Linked DNA regions of Homo sapiens. Changing the gene in region 1 together with any one later gene gives a genetic interaction. Each region holds a gene or a part of one and is shown in the gene's direction. Other genes may lie near its edges.

Region 1 (3,500 bases):
TGGGAGTACTTGATTTAATGGGTTTTTGTCCAGTTCTAGAATCATAGCTCTGAGAAATCGTAAAGACCTAGATCTCATGGCTAGACTAGTCCAGAGAATTATCTATCAAGAAGCAAAAGGGAAACAGTTGAGGGTCCTCAATCTAGATTTATTTCGATTCCTCCAATAAGGGTTTCACCTCTTGAAAATATCAGGAGACTTTTTCATTGGGGTGGAGTGAAATGTTTTGATTCTGAACTATTGAAACATGGTGAGGTTGTGGAAGATAGAGAAGAGCCTTAAATTTCTTTTAACATATAGTTTCTGTAATTAATCAATTTAGGAATTCTGTTATGGCCTAGTTTTCGGAGTACTTGATTTAATGAGTTTTTATCTGGTACTAGAAGCATAGCTGTGAAAGACCTTAAATGTATGAAACTCATATCCTTTTCAGTATTTACAGCTTGTTATTAATAAATTGTCTCTTTAGAAATAGACTAATGGTGAAGTGGGTTTATTCACATGTGACTTATTTGATATGTTAATGTAGTGGAATTTGGCATTATTCCAAAGATACAGAAAGAGATTAGACTTCAGACTTTCATGGCCTCGCCTATGGTATAATCTCCAGAATGTGAGTATGAGGAATCCAGTAATGAATTCATAGTGCCCTGGTAGGCATAGTCACTCTTGTGACATACTTGGTGTATATACATACCAGAGTTAATTACTGGTCCAGAAGAACTTAATCTCAAGAGCCAATTTCTGGTTATCCCAACATGGCACAGTATAAAATCTTATGGAAAAAAAATCTTTGTCATTGAGATCAAATTATAGTTTTCATACAGTAGATTTATATTGTTGATGTTTTACTCATGTTTATGTCAGACTTAATTTATATTTGTAGAATCTACTGTTTCTGATGATTTAGAGAATGGGAAACTGAAAGAAATTTTAAAGAATTAAGTAAACCTTGTTTGTTCTAATGGGTTTCTAGTGAATCTCCTTCAAGTTGGGGCATAGAGATTGAGAGGAGAGGTTTTTTAGGAGAGTCTCAAACAGGAAGACAACTCAAATAAGTGTTTATTCCTCTTGGTTGTCAGTGCTTCAGTAAAGCTTATTTATTTATTTTTTTCTAGCAGGCAGATAGAAGTTCCTGTCACTTTCTCCTTTTTTACGGGGTAGGATGTGATATTCCTTCTAGTGGAAATACCAGTCAAATGTCCATGGATCATGAAGAATTACTACGTACTCCTGGAGCCTCTCTCCGGAAGGGAAAAGGGAACTCCTCTATGGTCAGCTTCTTCTGTACTTTTTCTGTATCATTTTATGTGCTCTGTTTGTTTTCTGAATGAAATTTGGTAAATTTCATCTAGGTAATATAGTGTAATAGTGAAAAACTGCTTAGAATCTAGTTCTATTACTGCTCTTTGTGGAACTTTGGGCAAGTTCTTAACATCCTTGTTCCTCAGTTCCTCAACTTTAAAATGGGGACAGTAATAGTTCCTGCCCCAGAGTTGTTAAAGAGGGTTAAATAAAAGGATGTGTAAATAGCACTTGACACTTACAAGCTATATCTGATAATTATAATTATTATAAACCTCCACTCCATAAAAAACCCATTCATACCACAGAAGTATAGAATTCGTACCGGCTAACAAAGGTACAGATTTACAGGGATAAAAACAAAGTATTTTGCTTCATGTTAAAGATAAGTGTTTCTGTGATTTGTGTTTGTGTGTATAATTTCTTTTAAATATAAATCATATTTCAAGTGAAAATATCACATCATTACAGAAGAGTTTATTTTCCAAACCAAAACTTTTTTCATTCCTAATTTTTAATGCAACCTTGTTAAGGAAGAAACACCTAAGCAGTATGATATTTACTAATGTCTGTTTTACTTGTAGAATTTGCATTTATTTTATCAATTATTTTCTCCATTTCGTGTTTGGAGAATAAGTAATTCAGAATCAAATGTATCTTCTACAGCAATATTTAGTTCTTGTTTATGCCCTTGTTTCAATGAGTGCTGCAGTGTACTTATTTTATTACTTCCCTATAGCAAGTAGATAGAATTTCCTGTTACTTCCTCTTTTTTTGTCATTTCTAATTGACTGGGAGGTACATTATATTGTTACTGCAGTAGATTTACGTTATGGTGTTTACCTGTCCATGTTAGAATCAGTTTACATTTCTGGAATCTGGAATAGGATAATATCTATTTGATTTGAAATTGAACAGATGGTAGCATTATGTTGGTCCAGATAATCTCATTTCTCATTTGGACAAGATATTTTGGGGTTTGAAAAATTCCTATAATGATTAAAGGAAAAAGCTCTTGTGAGTTATTGTATGCGGAGACACACACACACACACACACACACACACACACACACACACAGTTTATTGCATTGTTAGATTTTATACATAAAATTACCCAAGTTGCAAATATATGTCTTCCACCCTTGACTCTCAGGATAGTGCAGCAGGATGCAGCGGAACCCCCCCGATTTGCCGACAAGCCCAGACCAAACTAGAAGTGGCCCTGTACATGTTTCTGTGGAACCCTGACACTGAAGCTGTTCTGGTTGCCATGTCCTGTTTCCGCCACCTCTGTGAGGAAGCAGATATCCGGTGTGGGGTGGATGAAGTGTCAGTGCATAACCTCTTGCCCAACTATAACACATTCATGGAGTTTGCCTCTGTCAGCAATATGATGTCAACAGGTAAATGTGAATAGTGGTTTTTTTTACTCAGTCTGCCTCAAAGCACATGGCATCTGATTTTGAGAATGTATTTAAGGTCACTACTTTGTAAGTTTACAGGGGAAATTCAAGTAGCTTACTTGAAATCCTTTTCTGAACAAAGTAAGATGAAAATAAAAAGCATTTGAAATAAATTGTTAGTCTTCCACTGAGTTGTTAATATGCTATACATTTTAAAAATAACTGGCAGTAGATGTTACTATCAGTTATGATTATGTAATTTACTCTGCCTAAGTTGTAGATAGTGAAGTTTTACAAACATTGGCGTATGTTTTGAGTAAATTGTAGGTGGGAATAGCTATTTTATTCTGTGGACATTGTAGAGTCCAAGATAAGTACCTTTCCTGTGAGGTTAGTGAAAGGAAGTTTTTGGCTTTATCATTTGAAGCATTTGCTCTGCTCTTCCTACTCCTTTTGGGTGGAGCTTATCAGGTTCTCCATTGGCAGGCAGGGCTCTAAGTGCAGTAACTTGATTTGCTGTTGTATTTGCTTAGGAAGAGCAGCACTTCAGAAAAGAGTGATGGCACTGCTGAGGCGCATTGAGCATCCCACTGCAGGAAACACTGAGGTATGCCCTTAGCAACAGAAACACCCCTCCCAGGCGCCCACCCTCAATTTGGAAGCCTCTTGTTACATATGTGTGATCAGGAATAGCTTTTGAAGTAAATCCAAGATACGTGCATATTACAAGTATAATATCTGAGTATTTAATATACATCAAGTTTGAAACTTGGCTGTAGCTGATTGATGTTT
Region 2 (3,500 bases), on another chromosome or scaffold:
GGTAGGAGTATAAATTGGTTCAGAAATCAGTTTGGAAGTATTTATCAAAATTAAAAGTGTACATGTTCTTTGACTTAGCAGTTCCACTTCTAGAAATAATTCTACAGAGAAACTCATTCAAGTGCAAAAGAGTGTTTATTGCTAGTAAAAGCAAGAAACTAGAAACAACCTAAAGCTCACAGTTGGAGATCCGTAAGGTAAATACAGTGCATATATGTGCACTGATAAAAGAAAAATGAACAAGATGTAGAGGAGTAAGTTATCATTTGCTTTAAAAGATTGTGTGTGCTTGCATATGCATAGAACATTTATGGGAAGATACTGAAAAATGTTTAACAGTATGTCTAAGAAATAGAACAGAGGTCTTCAGGGAATGGGTGGTAAGGAAAAGAGACTGTACTCTTCATTATATATTTGTTCTTAGTGCATGTATATTTTTAACCATGTAAATAGTGTTCTTTATTTAAAAACAGTATTTTAAAGTTTCTATAATGTAAATTTTTATTTGGTAAATCTAATAAATTACTTAATTCCATATCATGCCATCTCTAAAATCTTTTGGAAATTGCCTCCCCTCTGTCGTGCTCATTAATAAAACAATATTAAGAGTAGTAACCCTACTTACTTCAGAAAGTAGTTGTTTTTATTAATGGCATATGAAAGCAATTTGAGAACCATAAACTAATATGGAAATATAAGGCATTCTAAGGACAGAGATGAAAAGGGAAGGATATAGGGGAGGATAAAGGAAAGAGGAAAAGCAGAAAGAAAAAGGAAAAAAATACTCAGTTGGGTTCTGGGATAGAAGTCTGATAAGAACTTTTTGACATCCTGTCATTTATTTGAATGACTTGTTCCTCAAACCCAACGCGCACATTTCATGTTTTTTTTAGTTTTTTTTTCTGTTTTTTTTCCTGTTTGATAGCTGTCAGTTATAGTGATTGGTATTTAATACAAAAAAAACCAAAGATATGAAAATTGTTCTATATTTTAATCTGCAAATTGCTCCATTAGGCAGATTTAATTATTTGTGGATTTACTTATGGTGCTTCCAGATATCTTGTACCTCTTAATGTGACCATCAGAAAACTTGACTGAGAAACATTTGTACTATACAAAATACAAAATGCTTTCAGTATATTATTGCAAGTGCTTCTTAAAAACATATAGTATTGTTAAATGTGTACTTTTTAATGTTGTCTTGTTTAAATTGGAAAATTAACCAAATGTTATCCATTTAAACATGCTTTATAACATATTAAATGTGAGTGCTTAATAAGTACTTTTAATGATACTGGTACGGGTGTTGGAACCCAGTCCTAGTCAAGAGTCTAAATCTTCATCTCTGTTTTTCAGACAAATGTAGTAGGACATTCTTTAGGATGTACTTGGCATTCCTTGAGGAATTCTCCTGGTGAAAAGATCAACTTACTGAAAAGAAGCCTCCTTAGTATTCCAAATACAGATTACATCCAGCTGCTTAGTGAAATTGCCAAGGAACAAGGTTTTAATATAACATATTTGGATATAGGTATGATTTTTTTTTCTTTGGCTTTCCCAAGACATGTTTATTTAAAAATGTGTTTGAGGAACAAAAATGTGTTTGAGGAATAAAAATTTCTATTACAATTTATTTTATTGATCAGGGATTCTAAGTATATATAATTACTAGGCCAGTAATATATATAATTGATATGTCCCATTCTTGTGGATAGTAATAATAGCTAACATCTATACAGTTATAACAAAAACAACAATAGCAAAGATAGAGTTTTACTGTGTGCCAGACACTGTTCTAAGATTACACGTATCTACTTACTGAATCCTCAGACTAACTCTATGAAGCAAATTCTGTTATCCTTATTTATAAGTAAAGGAAGAAAGGCACAGAAAGGTTGAGAAACTTGCCCAAGATCACATAGCTAGTCAGCGGTAGAGCAAGATTTGGGGAAGAGTCCCAGAAGATACCCTGGCTGTTAAACTAGCCCTGCTGGGCAAATGAAAAGGCACCTACATTTCTAGCACAAGTACAAGTTTGTGGTGCCCAGACCTTTTCTCTCTACTTTGTCACTGTATGCTGATTCTGGGAGGTAAATGGAACCAAGTCAATTTATAGTTTTATCCCATCTCAGCCATCATCATCTGTATTTTCTCTAGCCCTTAATCATTTGGATAGACAAATATGGACAGATGGGAAAGCAAGTCAGTATGGATTTTCTTTTAATTCAATTTATAGAGCTAATTAGTTGTGTGTGTTTGGTGTCTTGATTTTTTTTTTTTTTTTTTTTTTTTGAGACGGAGTATTGTTTCTGTTGCCCAGGCTGGAGTACAGTGGCACAATCTCAACTCACTGCAACCTCTGCCTCCTGGGTTCAAGCGATCCTCCTGCTTCAGTCTCCCAAGAAGCTGGGAATACAGGCATCCACCACCAAGCCTGGCTAATTTTTTTTTTTTTCCCCAAGATGGAGTCTTGATCTGTTGCCCTGGTTGGAGTGCGGTGGCATGATCTCAGCTCACTGTAACCTCTGCCTCCCAGGTTCAAGCAATTCTCCTGCCTCAGCCTCCTGAGTAGCTGGGACTACTGCTGTGTGCCACCACACCCACCTAATTTTTGCATTTTTAGTAGAGACGGGGTTTCACCATGTTGGCCAGGCTGGTCTCAAACTCCTGACCTCATGATCCACCCACCTCGGCCTCCCAAAGTTTTTTTTTTTTTAGTAGAGATGGGAGTTTCACCATGTTGACCAGGCTTGTCTCAAACTCCTGACCTCAAGTGATCTGTACACCTCAGCCTCCCAAAGTGCTGGGATTACAGGTGTGAGCCACCGTGCCTGGCCAAAGTATCTTGATTTAACATGTGTGAGAAATTTTATATCCCTATCCAACCACAGAAAGATGTGGGGACCTTGCTTGTCAGGGTCCCCTGACCCTGGGAAAGTAGGGCACTTAGGGGCTCAAAGAACTCCTGATATTCTGTGCTACTTTGGGATTGAAGGACGGGTGAAGTGCATTGTCTCAGTAAACCAATAATGATGCAGAACCTGGGAAGTCAGTGCAGACAGATGGTTAGAAAAGGTGGCTGATGAAAAATTAGCTGGGTGTGGTGGCACATGCCTGTAGTCCAGTCTACTAGGGAGGCTGAGGTGGGGACAATGACTTGAGCCTCTGAGGTTGAGGCAGCAGTGAGCCATGATCATGCCGCTGCTCTCCAGCCTGGGTGACAGAGTTAGACTTGTCTCAAAAAAAAAAAAGAAAAGAGGCTGGAGGCCAGGTGCGGTGGCTCACACCTGTAATCCCAGCACTTTGGGAGGCCAAGTCGGGCAGATCACCTGAGGTCAGGCGTTTGAGACCAGCCTGACCAACACGGTGAAACCCTGTCTCTACTAAAAATACAAAAATTAGCCAGACAAGGTGGCGTGCACCTGTAATCCCAGCTACTCGGGAGGCTCAGGTGGGAGAATCACTTGAACCCGGGAGGCAGAGGTTGCAGTGAACCGAGA
Region 3 (3,500 bases), on another chromosome or scaffold:
GAAAAATTTTTTTTGAGTATTAGAGAATAAAAGCCAAGTTATGAAGAAAGGAACATAGATATTCCAGAAAACAGTAGTCATCTTCGCTCCTATGATTGAGTGCCAAATTTAGCTCTGAGCTTCCGGGCAGCCAGGGCAAGGGAGGGATATGGTACCCGAATGGCTCTCATCTAGTTAAAGGAAATAAACCATTTGTTTAAGAGAGGACTTTGTTCTTCAGCACTTGGTGCCAAGGGGGAAGTTCTGTTGGATCCTGTAGACACAGTAGGAGAGAGGAGTGGAATATTACTTCACAGAGGTTAAGGGCTTAGGCTGCAGGTGCAGGCAGTCTTGGAATTTAATCTTGGTTCTGCCACTTACTGGCTGCCAACCTAAAGTTTGTTTGCTTTCCCCTTTGTGCCTCAGTCTCCTTATCTGTAAAGTGGGCTAGTGGTGGCTGCAAGCTATAGAAGTGAGGCATGTCCACTGTATAGCACAGCACCTGGCACACAGCAGATGCCCAGTGAATAACAGCCCTCACTGGAACCCCTGGGTGCTCACAGACATTATGGCCTCTGTCCATGGCTCAGGTGCGCAGGGTGAGGGGAGCTCTGTGTCTTGGGTTGGGATGGGGGTGTCAGCAGGGAAATGAGCTGAGCAGAGGGTTTGAGTCAGAACAGTAGCCCCCGGTTTTCCCAGCTGCCCAGCAGTGAAGGCAACCTGACATGTGGCATCCATCTCCCCACAGTGCTCCAGCTTTTCTGCAGCTCACCCAAGGCTGCTCTCCGCTATGCTGCTGTTCGTACCCTCAATAAGGTAAGAGTCCAGCTTGGGGGTTGGAGGAAGCTGTCTGATCCAACTGGAGGTGTGTCCTAGCCTCTGACCTGGCTGGGAAGGATAATAGCCCTGGTCACAGTTAGTTTCTTCTAGATGGTGAGATGATCTCATCCAAAGGACTTCTGACTGGGCCAAACCATCAAATGTAGTGACAGCATTGGGTTCCTGCCCTCTCTGTCACTGTCCTCCCAAAACAGGTTGCCATGAAGCATCCGTCAGCTGTGACAGCTTGTAATCTGGATCTGGAGAACCTGGTCACAGATTCAAACCGCAGCATTGCCACGCTGGCCATCACCACCCTCCTTAAGACGGGCAGCGAGAGCAGCATCGACCGCCTCATGAAGCAGATCTCCTCCTTCATGTCAGAAATCTCGGATGAATTCAAGGTACCTGCTACCCCCAGGACACCCACGGCCCCCAGAGGAAGGAGCTCTGTCCCTGCTCTCTGTGGCCACAGCCTTCCTGCCAGGACTGACCTGAGGGGCTGGTCAGCCTTGAGGACTCAGAGGAGGCCAGCAGTTTGCTCTGCAGAGACTTGGCCTTCCGAGAAATGTGCGTAGTCCTGCCTCCAGGCCTCCATCCATATCGTCCCCTTGTACTGAAAGAACAGTAGTTTCCAGGCCAGTTAAGGGTTCATTGATTTGTTGTCCAAGTATTTCTTGAGCACTTGCTGTCTGCTATGTAGAGTGACAAAAGGGGAACATAGCAGTGAACAAAGCAGGTGACTGCCCTCCTGGAGCTTCCTTTCTAGGGATGGGAGAGGAACAGTAAACAGGTAAAGAAAGGAGTAGACGAGATCATCTCAGGCATGGGTACTGCAGTCAAGAGTGTAGAAATACAGCAGGGATGATCCTAGGAAGAGCACAGTCTGGGAAGGCCCTTCTGGAGGGTGACATTTGAGCTCAAACCTGAATCAGTGCAAAGAACCAGGAGGAAAGGCAGGAGCAAGTCAAGGAGAGAGAAGGCCAGTGGGTGGAAGAGCTGTGGGGCCAGTGCAGGTGACAAAGTCAGAATAGACAGGGCTCAATCATGTAAGGCCCATGGTCAGGTAAAGAGTTTTAATTGCAAGGAAGACATTGGAAAGGTGTTCTTTTGGGGCAGGAGGAAGGATGTGAATATTTTTTGAGCTTATATTTTGAAATAATTCATAGGAAGTTACAAAGAAATATACTGAGAAGTCCTATGCACCCCTCCATCAACCCTCTCCTACAGTGCCAGCATCCTACACTAGCACAGGACAATGTCAACCAGGAAAGTGACACTGGCATGACCCATAGAGCTCATTCAGATTTCACCAGCTACACAGGCAACTCCTGTGTGTATATATGTGAAGTTCTATGCAAGATGTCATGTGGAGACTTTCAAAATTGCCACCACAGTGAAGACACTCAACTATCCATCTCCACAAGACTCTTGTTACCTCTTCATAGTCAGGCCCATTCCTACCTCTCTATTCCCTAACCCCTGGCAGCCATTAATTTGTTCTCAATTTCTGTAATTCTGTTATTTCACAATTGTTAATTGATAGAACAATGAAGTATGTCACCGGAGAGTTTTAATCAGAGCAAACAATAATATGAATAATATATTGTGGTAAATTCTATAGTGTGGATTATGCAAAGTAGGCAGCAGTCTACTCTGCCTGTGGGTTACAAGAATGCTTTGCAGGCTGAAATGACACAGTGAGATTTGCATATTAGATCCTTCTGGGTCTGGGCACGGTGGCTCATGCTTGTAGTCTCAGTGCTTTGGGAGGCCAAGGAGGGAGGATCACTTGAGGCCTGAATTTTGAGACCAGTCTGGGCAATGTAGCAAGACCTCATCTCTACAAATTTTTTTTTTTTTTTTTGAGTTGGAGTCTCGCTCTGTTGCTCAGGCTGGAGTGCAGTGGTGTGACCTCAGCTCACTGCAAGCTCCGCCTCCTGGGTTCACGCCATTCTTCTGCCTCAGCCTCCTGAGTAGCTGAGACTAGAGGCACCCGCCACCATGCCCAGCTAATTTTTTGTATTTTTTAGTAGAGACGGTGTTTCACCATGTTAGCCAGGATGGTCTCGATCTCCTGACCTCATGATCAACCCGCCTTGGCCTCCCAAAGTGCTGGGATTACAGACGTGAGCCACCGCACTCGGCCTACAGAAAATTTTTTTAAAAATTAGCCATGTGTGGTGATGCGCACCTGTAGTCCCAGCTACTCTGGAGGCTGAGGTGTGAGGATCACTTGAACCCAGGAGTTCGAGGCTGCAGTGAGCCATGATCATGCCACTGCACTCCAGCCTGGGTGACAGAGTGAGACCTTGTCTGAAAAAAAAAAAAATTGGCTGGGCGCGGTGGCTTATGCCTGTAATCACAGCACTTGGGAGGCTGAGGTCGGCAGATCACTTGAGATCAGCAGTTTGAGATCAGCCTGGCCAACATGGTGAAACCCTGTCTCTACTAAAAAAATTAAAAAATTAGCTGGTGTAGTGGCTCACACCTGTAGTCCCAGCCACTCCGGAGGCTGAGGTAGGAGAGTCGCTTGACCTGGCCTGGAGGTGGAGGTTGCAGTAAGCCGAGATCGTGCCACTGCACTCCAGACAGAGCGAGACTCCGTCTCAAAAAAAAAAAAAAAAAAAAAGAGTCCTTCTGGAGCAGAGTGGAGGGGTGACTGGGTAAAGAGACTGTTGGAGTAATTCAGAAGGAGAGGA
Region 4 (3,996 bases), on another chromosome or scaffold:
GAGGCAGAAGTTGCAGTGAGCTGAGATTGCGCCACTGCACTCCAGCCTGGGTGACAGAGCAAGACTCTGTCTCAAACAAAACAAAAGAGACAGAGAAGTTTTGGGAAGGGTTGGTTTACAGGGAAAATCCTGGGTTCAGTCTCAGGCTTATTCAGGTGAGATGTCTCTGAGCCATCTAAGTGGCAATTCAGTAGGCTGTTGGATATGGGGTCTAGAGACTACAAGAGAGGATTGAGTTGATGTCACACAACTCCAGAGAGGGCATCACACACAAGTATATTTAAAGTTCCAGGCTGGGGCGGGGTGCAGTGGCTCATGCCTGTAATCCCAACACTTTGGGAGGCCAAGGCGGGCGGATCACCTGAGGTCAGAAGTTCGAGATCAGTCTGACCAACATGGGGAAACCCCGTCTCTACTAAAAATACAAAAAAATTAGCCAGGCGTGGTGGCGGGCACCTGTAATCCCAGCTACTTGGGAAACCGAGGCAAGAGAATCACTTAAACCCGGGAGGTAGAGGGTGCAGTGAGCCGAGATCGTGCCTCTGCACTCCAGCTGGGGCGACAAGAGTGAAACTCCGTCTCAAAATAATAATAATAATAATAATAATAATAATAATAATAATAATAATTTAAAAATAAAGTTCCCGGCTGGGCATGGTGGTTCACGCCTGTAATTCCAGCACTTTGGGAGGCTGAGGTGGGCGGATCACTTGAGGTCAGGAGTTTGAGACCAGCCTGGCCAATATGGCGAAACCCTGTCTCCACTAAAAATATAAAAATTAGCCAGGCGTGGTGGCGCATGCCTGTAGTCCCAGCTACTTGGGAGGCTGAGGCATGAGAATCGCTTGAACCAGGCAGGCGGAAGTTGCAGTGAGCCAAGATCATGCCACTGCACTCCAGCCTGGACAACAGAGCAAAAACTCCATCTCAAAAAAAAAAAAAAAAGTTCCCTCTCAACCCCTGTTTATTTATCCCATAAATATTTATTAAATGATTCTAAGTCTTAGAGCTGCAGAGGTGAAGAAGAGAGACTAGGTCAGCCCCTGTCCTCATGAATCTTACATCCAGTGGAGGTCATTTCGGTGTCAGAGAAAGGGTAGGGTGGTGGCTTTTTTCAGGCAGGCTAAAGGAGGGAGGTCACAATGTGTACTTTGTGATGAGATCTATGATATAACTGGGATGACAGCAAGGCCCCCACTGAGGTATTCCTTCCCCTCTCAGGACTAGCCACATGCTGTCTCTCTGCCCTGGCCTCTTCCACCCCATGCCCAGTCAGAGACCGTTTTGAGGGTGAGCAAATGGATAGTGAGGCAGGAGAGGAGGGGTTGGAAGGAGGTGGAAGGTGGTGGGATGGGGAGTTGTGGAGGCCGACAGGACAGAGGGAAGCTGGTGCTGTCTGTGGCCTCAGCCCCTCATCCTTACAGGTAGAGAAGCCAGTCTACGGCCCACCACGGGAGCCACCGCCTGGGCCAGACATGAAGCGCTGGCAGATTTTTGTCCTGTGGGTCTTTTGGGTGCTCATCCTCTGGCTGATGACCCCCTATCTGGATCTGACACCTGAATCAGCACCCCAGGAAAAACGAATGTACTTGGTACCACAGCATTGCGACTGCCCTTGGTTCAGTTCCGGGAAGTGTGGCTGCCCTTCTGAGACCCTCAACTGCTCCTCCTGCCACCACACAGCCGACGAATGGAACTGGCTTGATGCGTGCTCCAGGAAGACTATGGGGTACCTGATGAGGACAAGAGAGTCTATGACCTCTGACACTGTGCTCTGGTGGTTGGTCAGTGGTCAACACTGGGCCCGGCCATATCCCCCATGCTTTCCGGGCCTCACCCATCTCCCACTTTCCGCCCAAATCCCTGCCCTTGGCCCTGTCTTCACAGCCTCTGGATGGAGATCTCACCCACCCAGCTCTGTTTTCTCTCCCCTGGGCCCAGCCCCCAATCTCCCTCTTGCTGTTTCCAGGGCATGAACTCAGGGAGCGAGCTTGGGAAATTGTGGAGGAAGCTGTTTAAAGGGATTCCCAGGCTCTCGGTGAGCCATTTTGATTTCTATTGTGGGACTTGTGTGCTGTTGGGGCGCCCACAGATCCCGCAGGGCTCCAGCCTTGGCAACGACATCGACCAATACCCCGTGGTTTTCAGGTGGGTGCTGGGGAGAGGGCGGGAGCAGGAAGGCCAGGCCTGCCCCACAGTTCCATCAGTTTCTGCTCCCCTTCCCAAGATGAAGCAGGCCCCAAGTCCAGGGCTTTGAGATGGACGTGGGGAACCAAACCACACACAATGCTTCATCTATCCCAGGAATGCCAGCGACCAGGGCTCCTGGATGCAGCTGGAGATGCTACTGCGGAAGCTCTCTGACCTGGTGTGGACTTCAGATGCTCTAAGTGATAAGGTGATGGAGGTGTCCCCAGACATTCTCTGTGTGGGGGTGAGGGGAGGTCACTGCAGGGAGTAACAGCAGGGGCTCTGGGAAGACCTTCTATTGGCTTACTGGGGACACTTGCAGGACTTTCCCAGGTCTTGTGGCCCAAACTCCCCCACCTCCAATTCTTTCTCAGATTTTGGAAGATGGTCTGGTTCCCTAGTGGAGTGGAAGATAGCAAAGACACGGTGAGGGGGAATAGGAAAAGGGGTAGGATGTGGCTGTGGGTTGCTGTGGGAAGGGCCCCAGGTCAGTTCCCTCCCCCTTCCTCCCCAGGTGCAACCAGGACAACTGGCTGTCTTACCAGGGTCAGGGTCATCCCTGGGGCCCAAGGCTTTGTTCTGTGTCTTGCACAACTGTGCCCCGGCAGGAAAGATTCTTGTATCTTCTTCTCTTAAAATTCCTGCTCCTCAATGCCTTCAGCATGGAGTCTAAAGTTTTCTGCCTGGCTTTCAAGACTCTACATGTAGGCCAAGCGTGGTGGCTCATGCCTGTATCCCAACACTTTGGGAGGCTGAGGCGGGTGGATCATGAGGTCAGGAGTTCGAGACCAGCCTGGCCAATATGGTCAAACTCCATCTCTACTAAAAATACAAAAAATAGCCAGGCATGGTGGTAGCCTCATCTCTACTAAAAATGCAAAAAATAGCCAGGCATGCCTGTAGTCCCAGCTACTCGGGAGGCTGAGGTAGAAGAATCGCTTGAACCCGGGAGGCAGAGGTTGCAGTTAGCCGAGATTGCGCCACTGCACTCCAGCCTGGTGACAGAGCGAGACTCCATCTCAGAAAAAAAAAAGACTATACATGTTCTGACTCCTCCCCTTGCCTCCTGTCTCCCAGGCTCCCATAATGGGCTCTTAGAATTCCCCAGACACATGAGCTGCCTCATGCCTTCTCTCGCACCATTCCGTTTGCCTGGAATGCCCTTCTCTTACGTCCTGGGGGTTCCCCTCTCTTCCTCCAATACCATGAGGAAAAGTGAGTTGACATTCTCTTTTTTGGGATCCTCAGTGACTCTAGGAGAGTGTCCAGAGTCTGTTTCCTGGAGGTGAGCTCCAGTCTCCTCCCAGCTCCCAGGGACAACCTGTCATCCTAGATGCTGAGTGAAGGGAGGCAGGGGTGAGGACAGGAGTCTGCCTGCTGACGCACATGTCCCTCTCTTATCCACTAGGTCACCCTCTTTGGATTTGGATCAGAATAGCAAGGAAAGTGTTTCTATCACTGGAAGGAGGATAATCAGACCAAGGGCTCCAAGGAAATACTGCCCACGTCTAGTGCAGGAGCAGAAATCGAAGTCATCCATCAGCTAGCGTGTGGACAAGCTCACTATTCACACAAGCTCAGCCTAGCTGAGTCCATACAAATCCTATTTCTGGGTGGGTAAAGGGCAGGAGGAAATTGTAAGATCAGTCTGGTACTGAATAAAATCCTGGCCTGATTGTCTTACCTGTAACCACAGTGTCTGGGAGGGATGGGCCAGAGGTGCCTTCCAGATCTCAGGGGCAATATTTGAGTTGATTTCTTTGCCTAGTGCCCTGGATCATGTAGGAGGTATAAGTTTAGATTCAA

Evidence for each region.
Region 2: changes in NF1 (region 1) and PRKRA together harm fitness more than expected from each alone (negative genetic interaction), as found in Homo sapiens cells (one large-scale study listed by BioGRID).
Region 3: changes in NF1 (region 1) and COPG1 together harm fitness more than expected from each alone (negative genetic interaction), as found in Homo sapiens cells (one large-scale study listed by BioGRID).
Region 4: changes in NF1 (region 1) and C20orf173 together harm fitness more than expected from each alone (negative genetic interaction), as found in Homo sapiens cells (one large-scale study listed by BioGRID).

What each region holds. Positions count from the first base shown.
Region 1 is NC_000017.11:31,223,977-31,227,476, forward strand, and holds part of NF1 (neurofibromin), read left to right. Parts: intron 1-1,118; coding exon 1,119-1,274; intron 1,275-2,458; coding exon 2,459-2,708; intron 2,709-3,241; coding exon 3,242-3,315; intron 3,316-3,500. UniProt on the Homo sapiens protein: Stimulates the GTPase activity of Ras. NF1 shows greater affinity for Ras GAP, but lower specific activity. May be a regulator of Ras activity.
Region 2 is NC_000002.12:178,434,176-178,437,675, reverse strand, and holds part of PRKRA (interferon-inducible double-stranded RNA-dependent protein kinase activator A), read left to right. Parts: intron 1-1,356; coding exon 1,357-1,531; intron 1,532-3,500. UniProt on the Homo sapiens protein: Activates EIF2AK2/PKR in the absence of double-stranded RNA (dsRNA), leading to phosphorylation of EIF2S1/EFI2-alpha and inhibition of translation and induction of apoptosis.
Region 3 is NC_000003.12:129,259,606-129,263,105, forward strand, and holds part of COPG1 (coatomer subunit gamma-1), read left to right. Parts: intron 1-727; coding exon 728-795; intron 796-1,013; coding exon 1,014-1,202; intron 1,203-3,500. UniProt on the Homo sapiens protein: The coatomer is a cytosolic protein complex that binds to dilysine motifs and reversibly associates with Golgi non-clathrin-coated vesicles, which further mediate biosynthetic protein transport from the ER, via the Golgi up to the trans Golgi network.
Region 4 is NC_000020.11:35,526,853-35,530,848, reverse strand, and holds C20orf173 (uncharacterized protein C20orf173 precursor), read left to right. Parts: upstream 1-1,196; 5' UTR 1,197-1,290; intron 1,291-1,408; exon of another isoform or gene 1,409-1,424; 5' UTR 1,425-1,475; coding exon 1,476-1,784; intron 1,785-1,969; coding exon 1,970-2,148; intron 2,149-2,304; coding exon 2,305-2,398; intron 2,399-2,564; coding exon 2,565-2,591; 3' UTR 2,592-2,616; intron 2,617-3,598; coding exon of another isoform or gene 3,599-3,628; 3' UTR 3,629-3,870; downstream 3,871-3,996.